Linked DNA regions of Homo sapiens. The protein of the gene in region 1 purifies or fractionates together with the protein of each later gene. This does not show direct contact. Each region holds a gene or a part of one and is shown on either strand. Other genes may lie near its edges.

The links. Proteins that work in one complex are often made in the same cells at the same time.
Region 2: the proteins of POGLUT1 (region 1) and RASSF8 purify together in Homo sapiens (co-immunoprecipitation; one large-scale study listed by IntAct). This does not show direct contact.
Region 3: the proteins of POGLUT1 (region 1) and FBXO45 purify together in Homo sapiens (affinity purification with mass spectrometry; one large-scale study listed by BioGRID and IntAct). This does not show direct contact.
Region 4: the proteins of POGLUT1 (region 1) and QRSL1 fractionate together in Homo sapiens (co-fractionation; one large-scale study listed by BioGRID). This does not show direct contact.

What each region holds. Positions count from the first base shown.
Region 1 is NC_000003.12:119,489,463-119,492,962, reverse strand, and holds part of POGLUT1 (protein O-glucosyltransferase 1 precursor), read right to left. Parts: intron 2,413-3,500; coding exon 2,245-2,412; intron 1,446-2,244; coding exon 1,389-1,445; intron 682-1,388; coding exon 525-681; 3' UTR 1-524. UniProt on the Homo sapiens protein: Dual specificity glycosyltransferase that catalyzes the transfer of glucose and xylose from UDP-glucose and UDP-xylose, respectively, to a serine residue found in the consensus sequence of C-X-S-X-P-C.
Region 2 is NC_000012.12:26,059,682-26,063,181, reverse strand, and holds part of RASSF8 (ras association domain-containing protein 8), read right to left. Parts: intron 1-3,500.
Region 3 is NC_000003.12:196,585,660-196,589,559, forward strand, and holds the end of FBXO45 (F-box/SPRY domain-containing protein 1), read left to right. Parts: 3' UTR 1-3,400; downstream 3,401-3,900. UniProt on the Homo sapiens protein: Component of E3 ubiquitin ligase complex consisting of FBXO45, MYCBP2 and SKP1. Functions in substrate recognition but also plays an important role in assembly of the complex.
Region 4 is NC_000006.12:106,636,078-106,639,577, reverse strand, and holds part of QRSL1 (glutamyl-tRNA(Gln) amidotransferase subunit A, mitochondrial), read right to left. Parts: intron 1-3,500. UniProt on the Homo sapiens protein: Allows the formation of correctly charged Gln-tRNA(Gln) through the transamidation of misacylated Glu-tRNA(Gln) in the mitochondria. The reaction takes place in the presence of glutamine and ATP through an activated gamma-phospho-Glu-tRNA(Gln).

The DNA of each region.
Region 1 (3,500 bases):
CCTTAGACCATTCAGAGAATGATCCCCAAGTATTTTTCATAAACCCCATAGGGTTTCCTACATTAAAATAAAGTGACAGAGATCACGCCTTGAATAATTTCACAATTCCAGCAATGAGTTGTACTACTTCCAAATGACGAATTTTCTGCTCCAAATAATGGGACAAAGGGCATCATCACATGGACACAGTCAATTTCACAGTGATGGACTCACACAGGTGGATGATCTGAGGCACAAGCTGTGATTGGTCTTAAGAAAATGAAAGGTAGAGTTGGGTTCAAAATCCACATCTCACGATTTCTGGTCCTTATTCATCCAAAAAGTTGAACTGCTTCATATCAGTGTATTAGACACATTTTAAATCTTTCTCAAGAGTTGCTCTGGGTGCAGCATGATAAGGAAAACCAGGTATTTGGCTTGATAGCAGATATTCAAGGTATAGGTGCCAAGCTTATGGTAAGCTTCTCACCGTAGGATATCTGAGATCTGTTGCCACAAAGAGGACTATGGTCCTATGATGACTACTATAGTTCAGTTTTCAACATTTTGGGAATAATTTGATCATAACCTTTCCTTCTCGTTACATTATAAGACAGGAATTTAGAGTATTCACTCAAGAGGTTCTCCCAGTAACAGGTGATGTCATCCATCTGCAAATGGTTCCTAATAAACTGGCTTCCCCTAGAGACAAGATTTAACAAGAAAATGTTAAAGCACAGAATTTAATGATAATAGCAGTCTGCATTTGAGTGCTCACCTTGTGCCAAGCATTATTCAGCATTTTATATAAATTAATTCATTTGAGCCTCAAGAACCAACCCTATGGCAATCATATCCACATACATGCATGTAGCAATACAACTTAACAATCTTTTTCCTTTATTTATTTATTTATTTATTTATTTTTTGAGACGGAGTTTCGCTCTTGTTGCTCATGCTGGAGCGCAATGGTGCGATCTTGGCTCACTGCAACCTCCGCCTCCCGGGTTCAAGTGATTCTCCTGCCTCAGCCTCCCGAGTAGCTGGGATTACAGGCACGCACCACCACACCCGGCTAATTTTTTTGTATTTCTAGTAGAGATGGGGTTTCACCATGGCTAGGCTGGTCTTGAACTTCTGACCTCAGGTGATCCGCCCACCTCGGCCTTCCAGAGTGCTGGGATTACAGGCGTTAGCCACCACGCCCGGCCCATCTTTTTCCTTTAAAACAAGCATATGTAGACATGTGTGTATGTTTTCCCCCAGGACAGGTTTAGTTCTGAATTATCTCCATATAATGAGGATAAAATACAGATGTCACCATGATAACAATATTCAGATAACTTTGGCTAGGGCATAATGGGGATGACAAAAAGTAAAGTGGAAAAGGGAAAATGAACAGAACTCACCTTTCAGCAATCTCTTGAGCTACATCATCATTTGCTTTTACAAATTGTAACAGCTCTCTAAAATGAAAAGAATTTTAGACTGTGAAATATAGACCAACTTCATTGGCACTAAGTCAGAAAGACGATATAGATTGAGGTCTATGGATAATTTTAGGTATGTGGATGGTGGATTATTTCCTTCAAGCAAAGATATCAGGGTTCTCTCAAGAACAAAATAATAACAAAAAAAAACCCCCACACACTGATTAAAGATACCCTATTGTAGATTTGGGACATATTTGAGAAAATACAGAAGTTACCTTATATATTTACATATATTTTGTATATTTATATTATATATTATATTAGATATTTATATTATTTTACATATTTATATATAAATATATTTATATATAGAAAAAAAATATATATACACAGATATCACCATGATAACAATATTCAGATAACTCTGGCCCTTCTCTATACTTCTTCCTAGCTCCTCCTGTCATGAAAGGAAATTTGCTGAAGCTTCACTTGAGTCAATTCTCATGCTGTATCTGAAAATCCTTTTGACAATATAATAAGATTGAATATCCCTATCTTTAGTCTTGGAGAGATTAGAGCTTTTTAACTTCATTTTGTCTGAACGTTTCATTTGAAACCAGTATTAAAGCGCTTTTTCAAATTAAATTCCACTTATAGCCTACTTGGATAATAATGCAATACTATATATGCAAACCAAGAGGAAAAAAAGCTTTCAATGGAAAAAAATCGTAGGACTAAATGTCTTACATGACTGGTTTTAAGGCATTAAGGCATTTTTAAAAGCAGATTGGAAGGGTCTTTAGAAACTCTGCATTGGGGGATAACTGCTTACTGGACATTGGAGAGATCTGTTTTGACTGGGATATAGTGAACCCATGGCTTCAGCTGTGGATAGAAGAATTCTAGCCACTCATCACCAACATGGAAAACAAGTGAGCCACACAGGAAGAGGTGTTTAAACCGGAAACTTGCAGCTACGCCTCGAAAATTAAACAGATACCTGGGGAAAAAAGAACAAAATACATTTGATACTATATGCCTGCTGCCACAAATATGACCTTTTATGCTTATTCTCCCCTCCCCTTCTTTCCTTTTATGATTCCTCTCCATTCTCTTTCCACTTTGAGTTTTCAAGGACACATTAATATGTTCCTAAGTGGTTTCTATCAGCCACTTTACCAGGGCTAGGACTACAGGTTGTTCTGGGAATGGCAGGGTGAGGAAAAATAGGGGATATTTTCTCCAGACAGCACTAGATAGGGTCAGGAGCTGGGTGCCGGGTAGAGTGTATACAGGGCTCAGAAGGAAATGACAGCTTGTAGATTTGGAACATATCTGAGAAAATAAATGTTCAATGGTAAACATAAAATAAAACGAGTGAAAAAAATTTCACAAGCTTTTCTAGGCCTAATGTCTCTAACTAGTCATGGCCTCCCAAAGCCTTGTTTTTCCTCTAGTGTACCCCATCTGGTCGAAGGTCTCCACTGCTTCCTGGACATCACCCTCTTCTCTTAAAGTATAGAGCAGCGGTCCCCAACCTCTTTGGCACCAGGGACCAGTTTCATGGGAGACAATTTTTCCATGGATGGGTAGTGTGGGGGAGATGGTTTTGGATGAAACTGTTCCACCTCAGATCATCAGGCATTAGTTAGATTCTCATAAGGAGCACGCAACCTTGATCCCTTGCATACACAGTTCACAATACAGTTTGTGCTCCTATGAGAATCTAATGCCAAGGCTGATCTGACAGAAGGCAGAGCTCAGGCGGTAATGCTCGCTTCCCCACTGCTCACCTCCTGCCATGCAGCCTGGTTCCTAATAGACCAGTACCATGGCAGGGGGTTGGGGACCCCTGGTGTAGAGAGGAGAATGAGGAAAACCTAATCAATTTTCAGAGATTGCCCACAGGGGAAAAAAAAAAAACAAAAAAAGCTGTCTTCTTCTCAGCATTTCTTATGCACGCACCTGTCGCCAACCAGAGTTGCTTTCACCATATAGCTCCTACTCTGCGTGTCATTAGCACTCCTAACTCTGAGCCACCCCCACCACCACTGCCCTCCTCTAGACCTGGTTTTACCTGTTCATCTA
Region 2 (3,500 bases), on another chromosome or scaffold:
GCAATTATACTTGTATAAACAGCTATTGATTGATTTACCTTCCTGGCTTTCTTTTTTAAATTTCATGAGCTTCTGAGCCAATAGTAGTATTTTTGCAATTACTGCATCAATAAATGGAAATCTAGATGTGTAAATATCAACACCCATGTATGTAATTCATGAGGAGCACATTAAAAAATGATTTTGCTATAAGCATATGAGTGTGTTCTCCTTTAGGGAAACCTGAATTTGGGGTATAGCTGGAAGTTGGGGTTTTGGAGGCAAACAATCCTACGTGAGTTACTTACTAGATAAGCAGCACAACTTCCCTTCTAAAACGCTTCGCAGATTCTGAGGGTTAGCACCTACCACACTGCCTGGCCCACAGCAGGCATTCAACACGTGGTAGCTAGTAAGACATTTTTCCTATAACAAAAGGGCTGACCACAGAATTCCTTTAAATAGTGATGTGTCATCACAATGATCTTTTATTTATTTATTTATTTTTTCCCCTCCCTTGCCCAACAATCTGACTTTTAAAAAGCAACTTCCAACTATGTAAACTAGACAGAGATGGGACAAAGGTTCTGGAGTAGAAAGGTCTGGGTTCAAATGTGGCTCTGCCTCCTACTGTGCTTACCTACATGATCTGAACAATTAAATTTCCTTTAGCCTCAGTCTCCTCATCTGTGGGATAAGAGTAGTATTGCCTTATCTGACAAGGTGGTTCTGAGACTCAAGTGAGAATGTAAAATATAAATATGTTTGTGAAATTGAAAAGTGCTAGATAATATTAGTTACATTTATCAAAATGCCCAGGCTAATAAGGGGGATGAAAAAGAAAACCTTAGCACAATAGATTAGCTTCTTGAAATAAAAAATGTTTCCAATGATTTTCAGGTTAAAAATTACTCTAATTGCTCCCAAAGAAAAACCACATGACACATCTGCAATGTTAAAACTGTCCCATGTGTACAAACTGCTTCAAAGGTCATAGCACTATGCCTATCAACTGCTTTTAGGAATCTTACTCTTCTCTGAACCTCTGTGTCCTCCTTCGGTAACAGGAGGGGTTAGATAAACCGGTAGAGTTCTTTCCAATTCTATCAGCCCAATGAAGTATCTTTAGAAGGAAAACCGAATCATCACATTATATGAACTAAACAAAATATTTTAAAGACCCTAATTTATTCATAATTAAAAATAAAACTAATTTTCCAGTGCTTACTGGTACTGCTACCCTCTGAGAATGTCTTGGAAGGTTATTTAGAATTGCTTTTACTGCCAGTATTGGCTTTTGTTAAATAATGCACATTTAGTACCACTGGGTCAAAAAATTCCATCCAGCAATATAAAAAAGCTTTTTTTAAAAAAGGCAAATGAATTAATAGATTTGATTTTATTATATAAATTGGGTTTTAAATATTTTATATAGGAATTAAATTCCACAATCGCTGTTTTTAATATCCATAACTTGGCAGCACTCTACAGATTCTATTTCCTTCATTTACACAGATTCTGATTCCTCCTGCAAAACTCCTTTTAGCGTATTTGACCACATGGATACATTCAGTTAAACCTTCTGTACTATTTTGATGTAATCTTAAAATGAATAAAAAGGAATATCTATCTGTCTGTCTGTCTATCTATGGCATTTGTAGTTTAAGCTGTTTTTGCATTGTAGGACTGTGTGACACTATCAAATAATTTCGATCCAATTTAGTGGGGTAAAAAATATTAATTATACTTTTAAATATTGAAGCAACTGAGACTAATCCCAAGAATCATTAAATTTATATACTGAAGAAACTTACATACAGATTTTAATGCATTAATGAGATCTTATTGAATGACTGATTGACATAAATTAAAAGAAAACAGGATAACAGCTTACTTTCACTTAAGAAAGCAGAATACACAACTATAAAGTAACATAACATTTTGAAAATACACACCAAAACTCAAACAAGGGTCACTCAGAAATTTATGCCCTGAATTCAACCATTTTTTAATACTCCAACAATTTTTATAATTTTAGGAAATTTCTCCTTACAGTCATAAATCAAAATCATGATTTAAAAGTTACATCTTGCTATTTAGTTAACAAATGTATATTGAACACCACATATGTGTCAGAAACAGTGCCAGGCTCTAGAGAAATAGATTCTACTAAACATCTTCATCACCAACCCTCTGGAGTCTTCATTTTAACTGACATTTGATATTTTCTTCAGTACCAAATCCTCCACACCCCAAAGATGAATATTGGACATTATTCAAAAGAACATGACAAAGAAATGGCACTAATCTCTTATGAATTTAATGCTAACATATCTTCAGGTTTCTGGACATATGAGAAATAATGTCAGTAACACCTGACTTATTCTTTATCTATGGAGGATAAGCTATCCAACAGCACTGAATTTTTCTGATAGTAGATATTTTGCTTCTTGAGCTATAAATATTTTAATGAAAATTTTGTAAAATACATTACACAGTCCAGGACTCTTATGCAAACTCTAGTGAACACAACTAGCTTTTTCCGTAATGACTTAGAATTCTTACAGTAAGCGTTGATCTCTGTAACAGAACTTACACTTTATTATCTTATAGCCTGTAAAATGCTTTTGATGCTTTTATATATATCATCTTAGTTAGTTCTGTGAGTTAAGCAGTATAGATATTACGATCCTCATCTTATCAGTGAAGAAATAAAAGCTTAAAGAATTTTAAGTAATTTTCTGATGACATTTAGTTATTTTTTTACTATACTATTTAAGTTCTGAGTGAAACTACTAAAATAACTCTTACCCCACAGTATATCTTAGAATAACAGTGATACAATAAAAAATTATCTCTGAATATACCTGTCAGCCAGTTGTGCATTCAAACCATAGTTACATCATCCACAGTGTATCTTCCCAGTGTATATCATGTAATCACAGAATTACTGTCTACTTAGAATTATATGATAAGCTCACTACTACTAAACATAATAAAAATAGTGGTCAGGCACGGTGGCTCACATCTGTAATCCCAGCACTTTGGGAGGCCGAGGCGGGCAGATCACGAGGTCAGGAGATCGAGACCATCCTGGCTAACACGGTGAAACCCCGTCTCTACTAAAAATAGCAAAAATTAGCTGGGCGTGGTGGTGGGTGCCTGTAGTCCCAGCTACTCGGGAGGCTGAGGCAGGAGAATGGTGTGAACCTGGGAGGCGGAGCTTGCAGTGAGCGGAGATCACACCACTGCACTACAGCCTGGGTGACAGAGTGAGACTCCGTCTCAAAAAAACAGTTACAGAGTACCTGTGATTTACTGGGCATTGTGCTGGTTACGTTAAAAAAATATAAACCAAAATAAGTAGAAAACACTACAAACCAGAAGATTTTGGGAGCTGTTCGTTAACACAGCATAATCTAACCCATCTTGACTGATGCATGCTATGAATTAACATGTATTAACATTCATTAAAATAATATTCTACAGATGTGGAAAATACAGAAGCTAATTAAAATAAA
Region 3 (3,900 bases), about 77 Mb from region 1:
AAAATGCTTTTGAATTAATAATCCAACCCACATGAGCTGAGAGTTTTTCTTTTGTTAGAAAAGAAACAGACATCTTTCTGTATGAAAGTATAAATTGTATGGTTTTAGATACATAAGAATTGACAAAAGCGAGCGAAATCTTTGTACTTCTGAGTTCTTGCTGTATGTATGTTTTGTTTTAAATCTGATTAGGGACACCCAGCAGCTGGCCGGGATTCTTGGATTGCTCCTTGGGAGTTAAGATTGTCAATACTCCTGTGAAGCAAGGGATTTCAGCCATAGAACAAAGATTTATTGTTGCCACCTGAAAAGTTTACAAGTATTTATTGTGTATTTGATACATTGCTTGAAAAGATGAAATCTGTTAAAGATTCTTTTCGATGTCCAGGTTAAGAAGAAACCTCCTTGTATTGAGTGAAATTATATGTTAAATGTATTAGAGAATGTAGGTGGTATAGAAATTGATTTTTCTTGGTGTAGAACAACTCAGTTCGGCAAAGTTTAAAATTTGATTAAACAAGAGAAGTGGTTCAGGTTGAAGATGGACTTGTTAGGAAGTGATCAAGTCCTTTAAGTACTTGTTTCTTTTTCAGGTTGTGATGTGGCCATTCCGAATTTTGTTGAGAGTTTGGTTTATAATTGTCTCTTTTGTCTTGTTAGTAAACATTCATTTGCAACAGTTTTGAAGGTGCTGAGTGGAAAACCGAAACACATGGTTATTGCGTATTGGACCTAGAATGAAATAATTGCCTCAATATTTAACAACAAGCCATTCTTATCTCAAAGATTTAAATTCCCGAATGTCCCATTCGCAAATCATATGCAATTGAAGTGAGCAGCATGAGCATCTGGGTCATGAGGGCCTTCATTTACGTAAATTTGTCACTAAAACCCAGTAGTAGCTCTACAAAATCTTAAACTGCTGCAGTGCTCAAGGAGATGGAATATCTTTGTCATTGGTGCTGAGGAGAGCATTTCGGTAGAAGACAGTTGCGCCTGAAGATTGAGTGTAAATCATTCAAACCAGTGGTTCTCAGTGTTGGCTGTATACACTTTGTAGTCACTTTGGAATGTTGGAAGACACATCGATGCTTGGGTTCCGTATGCCAAGATTCTGATGTTGGTCTGGAATATGAGCTGGTCATAAGGATTTTTAAAAACTTTCTGGTCATTTCAATATGCTGCCAAGGTTGAGAACCACTGTTGTAAAATTCACCTTGAGTTTTCTCATCTGCAAAATAGAAAAAAAAAAATCCTTGCTCCCTCCCTTCACTACCTCACAAGGATATTGAGGGTAAAGGAGAAAATAATGGGAAAGTGCTTGTGCCGTGGATGAAAAGTGCTATTAAAAGTCAAAGGAGTGTTCTGTTTCAATTCATAGTATGATCAGGGAAAGTGTAACTGAGTATACTTTGTTGACTTGGGAAACCTGGAGCACTTTCTTTGGTTGGTTAACGAAGCATGCAGATGTGGAAGCAGACGTTACTATTATCCCTACTATGGTCTTCTGTCATACTGAGACAGGCTGTTTTAATTACCTGGTTTTACATAGGAAAGAAGAAATATTAAGGCTTAAAGTTTGTAATGATCAATGGCTCATAATTCATTAAATCTTTTCATACAAGGAATTTGTGGTTAATGTCATTTCATAGTTGCCATTATTTTCTCATTATTTGACTTAAATGTTAAGCCATTTATTTCATCTCCCTCATTCACATAAAGTGTAGATATGGATTCAATAAGACACCAAAAGAAAGTAAGATTTACCCAGTTAATATTTAAAATCATTGTTCAGTGATTAGGCATTTTCTGCCTTTTAGAATTATTTGACTGGAGAAAGAGTTTCAAAAATAGCAGAGCCCTAAACCATAAAGAAACTACTACTGTATAATGAACTTTTGTTTGTTTTTGGAGACAGGGTTTCACTCTACTGCCTAGGCAGGTCTTGAACTCCTGGGCTCAAGCAGTCTTCCTGCCTCAGCCTCCCAAGTAGCTGGGATTACAGGTGTATGCCACTATACCCAGCTTTAACTTTTAAATCCCCAAACTATGTAGATTGTCATATTAATATTAATTTTTTTTTGTTATTTTGAAGAAGTGAGTAATTTGAAGAGATAGAAACTTAGGGAGTGGTGTGTGTGTTTCTTTTTTGGAGACAGAGTCACGCAGGCTGGAGTGCACGATCTTGACTCACTGCAACCTTTGCCACCCAGGTTCAAGCAATTCTCGTGCCTCAGCCTCCCGAGTAGCATGTGCCACCACACCTGGCTAATTTTTTTCTTTTTTCTTTTAGACGGAGTCTTGCTCTGTTGCCCAGGCTGGAGTGCGGTGGTGTGATCTCAGTTCACTGCAACCTTTGCCTCCCGGGTTCAAGTGATTCTCCTGCCTCAGTCTCCCGAGTAGCTGGGATTACAGGCACCTGCCACCATGCCTGGCTAATTTTTGTATTTTTAATAGAGACGGGGTTTCACCATGTTGGCCAGGCTGGTCTCGAACTCCTGACCTTGTGATCCACCCACCTCAGCCTCCCAAAGTGCTGGGATTACAGGCATGAGCCACTGTTCCCGGGCCTAATCTTTGTATTTTTAGTAGAGGGGGTTTATGCCATGTTGGCCAGGCTGGTCTTGAACTCCTGGCCAACACCACCCACCTCGCCTCCCAAAGTGCTGGGGTTACAGGCGCGAGCCACCGTGCCAGGCCAGAAATTTAAGGAGTTTTAAAGGTTAGCATTGAAAAGATTACTTTCCAGAAATTGAGACCACCACAGTTCCACAATTGGGACTGTGGTAGATAATCAGGACCACTTGGAAGCCTTTATTAGGAACAGCCCACACCCAGCCCAAATGCTGTCCTCAAAAACATTCCTCAGTTTCTCTAGCTGAATGTAATCTCTCCTTGAAATTTCCCTAGTTTTATATATCTATAGTTGACTCATGCTGTATTTATTTATACCTTGTTTAAAATTATTTATTGATTATTTATTGGTGTCATATCGCCCCTAAACTGGGACAGGATCTCTAACGGACTCATCTTTGTGCCACAACATGTAAGCCCAATAGGCAGGTGCTCACATATTTGCTGAAGGAACAGAGAAAGAACTGCGGAGAAAGACAAAAGCTCCTCTGAAGTTTTAGACTATAGAAGCAAAAATTATAGTAGCAAAAGATGAATGAGAAATTCTGTTCTAGTCCCAGTGAAGCAGGAAGGAAAGGGTTGCAAACTTGAGGCTGGTAAGGAAGAAATAATTACTGTGAATGCATTTAGCCACTCCCCTCTACTCAAAAATACTGGTAAACTCTGATTTTTATATTTGTTTAGAATTTAAATTAGAATTCTGTATCTTTATTTTTTGGAATTCTGTTGTTTTGCCTTAGTTTCTTAATAAAAAGTTAAACATTAACCACCTGTGATTGCTTACATTTAAAGACATTTTTTACACATTGGTTAGAAAGAAAAATTGGGGTGCCTTAATAGCCAGAGGTGGTGATGGAATTTACCTATAAATTCCATGGCTTTAATAATAGAATCCACATTCCCCATGTTTAGAATGGAAAGTGGACAGAGAACAGTAATTCACTAGGGTCTTATTTCCCAATTGCCTCTACCGCCCCCCACCCCACCCTCCTGCTGACATTTGTTTGATAATGCAGTTGTTTGCCAAGAATTATGAGAGACAGGCATGCTATTCCTGAACTGGCTGAATACACGGCTCCTGTGATCCAAAAGCTTAAAAGAGAATCAGTTGATGATGTTGCTAAACAAGTTGGCTGATATGTTAAAGTTCAAAGCATTTTAATTTTTTTTTTTTTTTTTTTTTTTTTTTTTTTTTTTTTTTTTTTTTTGAGACAAAGTCTTGCTCTGTCACCCAGGCTGGAGAGCAGTTGATGTGCTCTCGGCTCA
Region 4 (3,500 bases), on another chromosome or scaffold:
TTGGAGATTTTATGAAAAGATAATTGAATTAGATGGGAGCTGAGAGAAAAGGAGAATAGGGGAAGGAATAGTATTTACCGAGTATTTTCCAAGAGCCAGGCACTGTTGCTTTACATGCATTATTACTTCATTTAACCCTTAAAACAACCACACTGGCCGGGCGCAGTGGCTCATGCCTGTAATCCCAGCACTTTGGGAGGCCAAGGCGGGTAGATCACAAGGTCAGGAGATGGAGACCATCCTGGCCAACATGGTGAAACTCTGTCTCTACTAAAAATACAAAAATTAGCCAGGTGTGGTGGCACGTGCCTGTAGTCCCAGCTACTTGGGAGGCTGAGGCAGGAGAATCACTTGAACCTGGGAGGCGGAGGTTGCAGTGAGCCAAGATCGCGCCACTGCACTCCAGCCTGGTGACAGAGCCAGACTCTGTCAAAAAAAAAAAAAAAAAAAAAAAAAAACAACAAAACACACAAATAACCACACAAGTTAGGTACTGTTTATCTCATTTGACAGATAAAGAAACTGAAGCTCAGAAACCTTGAGTGATTTGCCCAAAGTCACACAAATAGTAAAGGACAAGGTGACCTCATAATATACAGTCTTCACCATTTCTATCTCTACTCTATTGGAAGCTTAGTTTGTCCTCCAAGTTGACAGTGTTTTCACGTGTTCCATAAAGCAACAGAAGTTTGCATTTGAGGGGAAAATCTCCAAATGATCTGCTCTTAGCTACTGAGTAAATCATCAACGCAATGGCATTCTTGGGGCTGAGGGTTTTAAATGCAACAAGCAGTGGGAAGAGGTCATCAAGAGGATCCCTAATGCTCACCGACAAGAGGAAAAGGACTTCCATGGGGAGGCTGCAGGACTGCTGCAGGGATAAGGAGGGCAGCAAGGTCCGATTTAAGGAAGTGACTTTTATAGTAACAAGAAGAGAGAGTTCGTCTAATGGTTTGTATGAAAGGTAAACCCTTGGCCAGGCACAGTGGTTCGCGCCTGTAATCCCAGCACTTTGGGAGGCCGAGATGGACAGACCACCTGAGGTTGGGAGTTCAAGACCAGCCTGACCAACATGGAGAAACCCTATCTCTACTAAAAATACGAAATTAGCCAGGCGTGGTGGTGCATGCCTGTAATCCCAGCTACTCGGGAGACCGAGGCAGAAGAATCGCTTGAACCCGGGAGGCAGAGGTTGCGGTGAGGTGAGATCGTGCCAATGCACTCCAACCCGGGCAACAAAAGCGAAACTCTGTCTCAAAAAAGAAAAAAAAAGAAATGTAAACCCTCTAGAAGAAAGAAGCTAGAAGGAATAAAAGAGAGCAGTGCGTTTTAACATCATGTATATGGAATGGGAAGAACAAAGATGGTAGTAGGCTGGGTGGAAGAGAGTTAGAACTAACAAAAACCCAGAGCTAGAGAGACAAATATACGTAGGCAGGCCCATCCCATGGCTAAGTTGTAACAATGAGGAAAACTGCATTTGCCACTTTCTCTCCTTCCTTGACTCCTCTCAAGTCCCCTAATGCCTACAATCCTCAAGCTGCTTCCAGACTGGTATAAGGATAAAAGCTAAGGTGTTACAATTGTGGTTGAACAGCAAGAAATAAGATTGTCTAGGATATTCACTTTAAATGGTGCCGATTTGCATTAAGACCATTTTTAGGAACTCTAGATTTGAGAAAAAAAATCAATAAGGGAAGTGGAGAAGAGAAGTGAAAACAAAGATGCTAATCAGCTAAATGGACTGAGCATAAGAAGCAGGAAACATAAATCACATATACAGTTCCCCAGGACAAAACTGCAGGTGTCAAATCTGAATATAAAACGAAGTTAACTTTTAAGTTTTCGTTAAAAGAAAAAAAATTCTCTCTCTGGCACATCTTTTCTCTAATGGAAACTAGGTCTTCCCTGGCAGCCGCTGCTTCTCCTGTTTAGTGCCTACCTACCACATACCACAGAGTCCAGAGTGGGAGAGGGGAAAGATGATCTCCTTGTTCCTCAATGCTTCTCTTCCCTCTTCTCTCAAACATTCCGCTCACCCAAAGCACATGCCTTGGGAGATGACACCACGCTCCCCAGTATGCTGACCTATAGCCTTCCTGGTACTACTTTTCATTCATTGACAATTTTGCTGGCTAGCACACTGTCATCTTTGTTACTATTGCTCCTATCCTCTCCCTTGTTCACATCATATTTCAAGTCCATGTACACCAACATCTGATTTTTCAGTTCTTTGATCTCACTTTGCACAAGCTTTTCCTTCACCTCACCCCAGTTGCCAACTCTCCTGGTCACTGTCTAGACTATATACATCATTACTAACATCCGTTTGATCTCCAAAATGTCAACTCCAGCCATCCCATGTCTCCAGCCCTTCAGCTCACTTACTTTACTATCCACACAGCCAGCAGAAAATCGGACCTTAGTTCCACAACCACAGGAAATGAATTCTGCCAGAAACCAACGAGGTCGAGAGGGCTGGAGCTCCAGATGGAACTCTAGCCCTAGCAACACCTTGCAGTGCAACTGCAGCACATGGATTTCAGCCTTGTGAGACCCTGAGTAGAGGACCCAGCTACTCCATGCCCTGACTTCTGACCCAGAAAACTGTGAGATCCTGAGATTATGTTATTTTAAGCCACAAAGTTTATAGTAATTTTTTATGCAGCCATAGACAACTAATATACCTCCTTAGAAAAATTTTAAAATCTTGCTCAGGAACCACTCTTCTTAGAAAGTAAAGGAAGGGAAAAATGCAAATACATATAATTTAGTAATTTTGTCCCTGTAACAAAATTAATGTTAATAATAGCTAGTACTTAGTTCTAGACATTGTCCTCAGTGCTTAATATATCATTTAATCTTTACATCCACACTGAGAAGCTATTATTATCTCCATTTACAGATAAAAAAACTGAAGTTCCTACCTGAGGTCACATAGCTAAAAAGCAGTAGAGCTGGCTGGGCGCGGTGGCTCATGCCTGTAATCCCAGCACTTTGGGAGGCCAAGGCGGGCAGATTACAAGGTCAAGAGATCAGGACCATCCTGGCCAACACGGTGAAACCCCGTCTCTACTAAAAATACAAAAATTAGCTGGGCGTGGTGGCGTGCATCTGTAGTTCCAGCTACTTGGGAGGCTAAGGCAGGAGAATCGCTTGAACCCGGGAGGCAGATGTTGCAGTGAGCCAAAATTGTGCCACTGTATTCCAGCCTGGAGACAGAGCGAGACTCCGTCTTAAAAAAAAAAAAAAAAAAAAAGTAGCAGAGCTGGGATTCAACCGAGGACTCATCTTGTTTCCAAAACTCATGCTCTGAACTACTTACTATACTACAGGGTGAGTATCCCTTATCCAAAATGCTTGGGACAAGAAGTGTTTAGATTTCGGATATTTTCAGACTTTGGAGTACTCTATGTGCACTATATACTTTCCAGTTGAGCATCCCTAACCCAAAAATCTCCAGTCTAAAATGCTCCAGTGAGCATCTCCTTTGAACACAC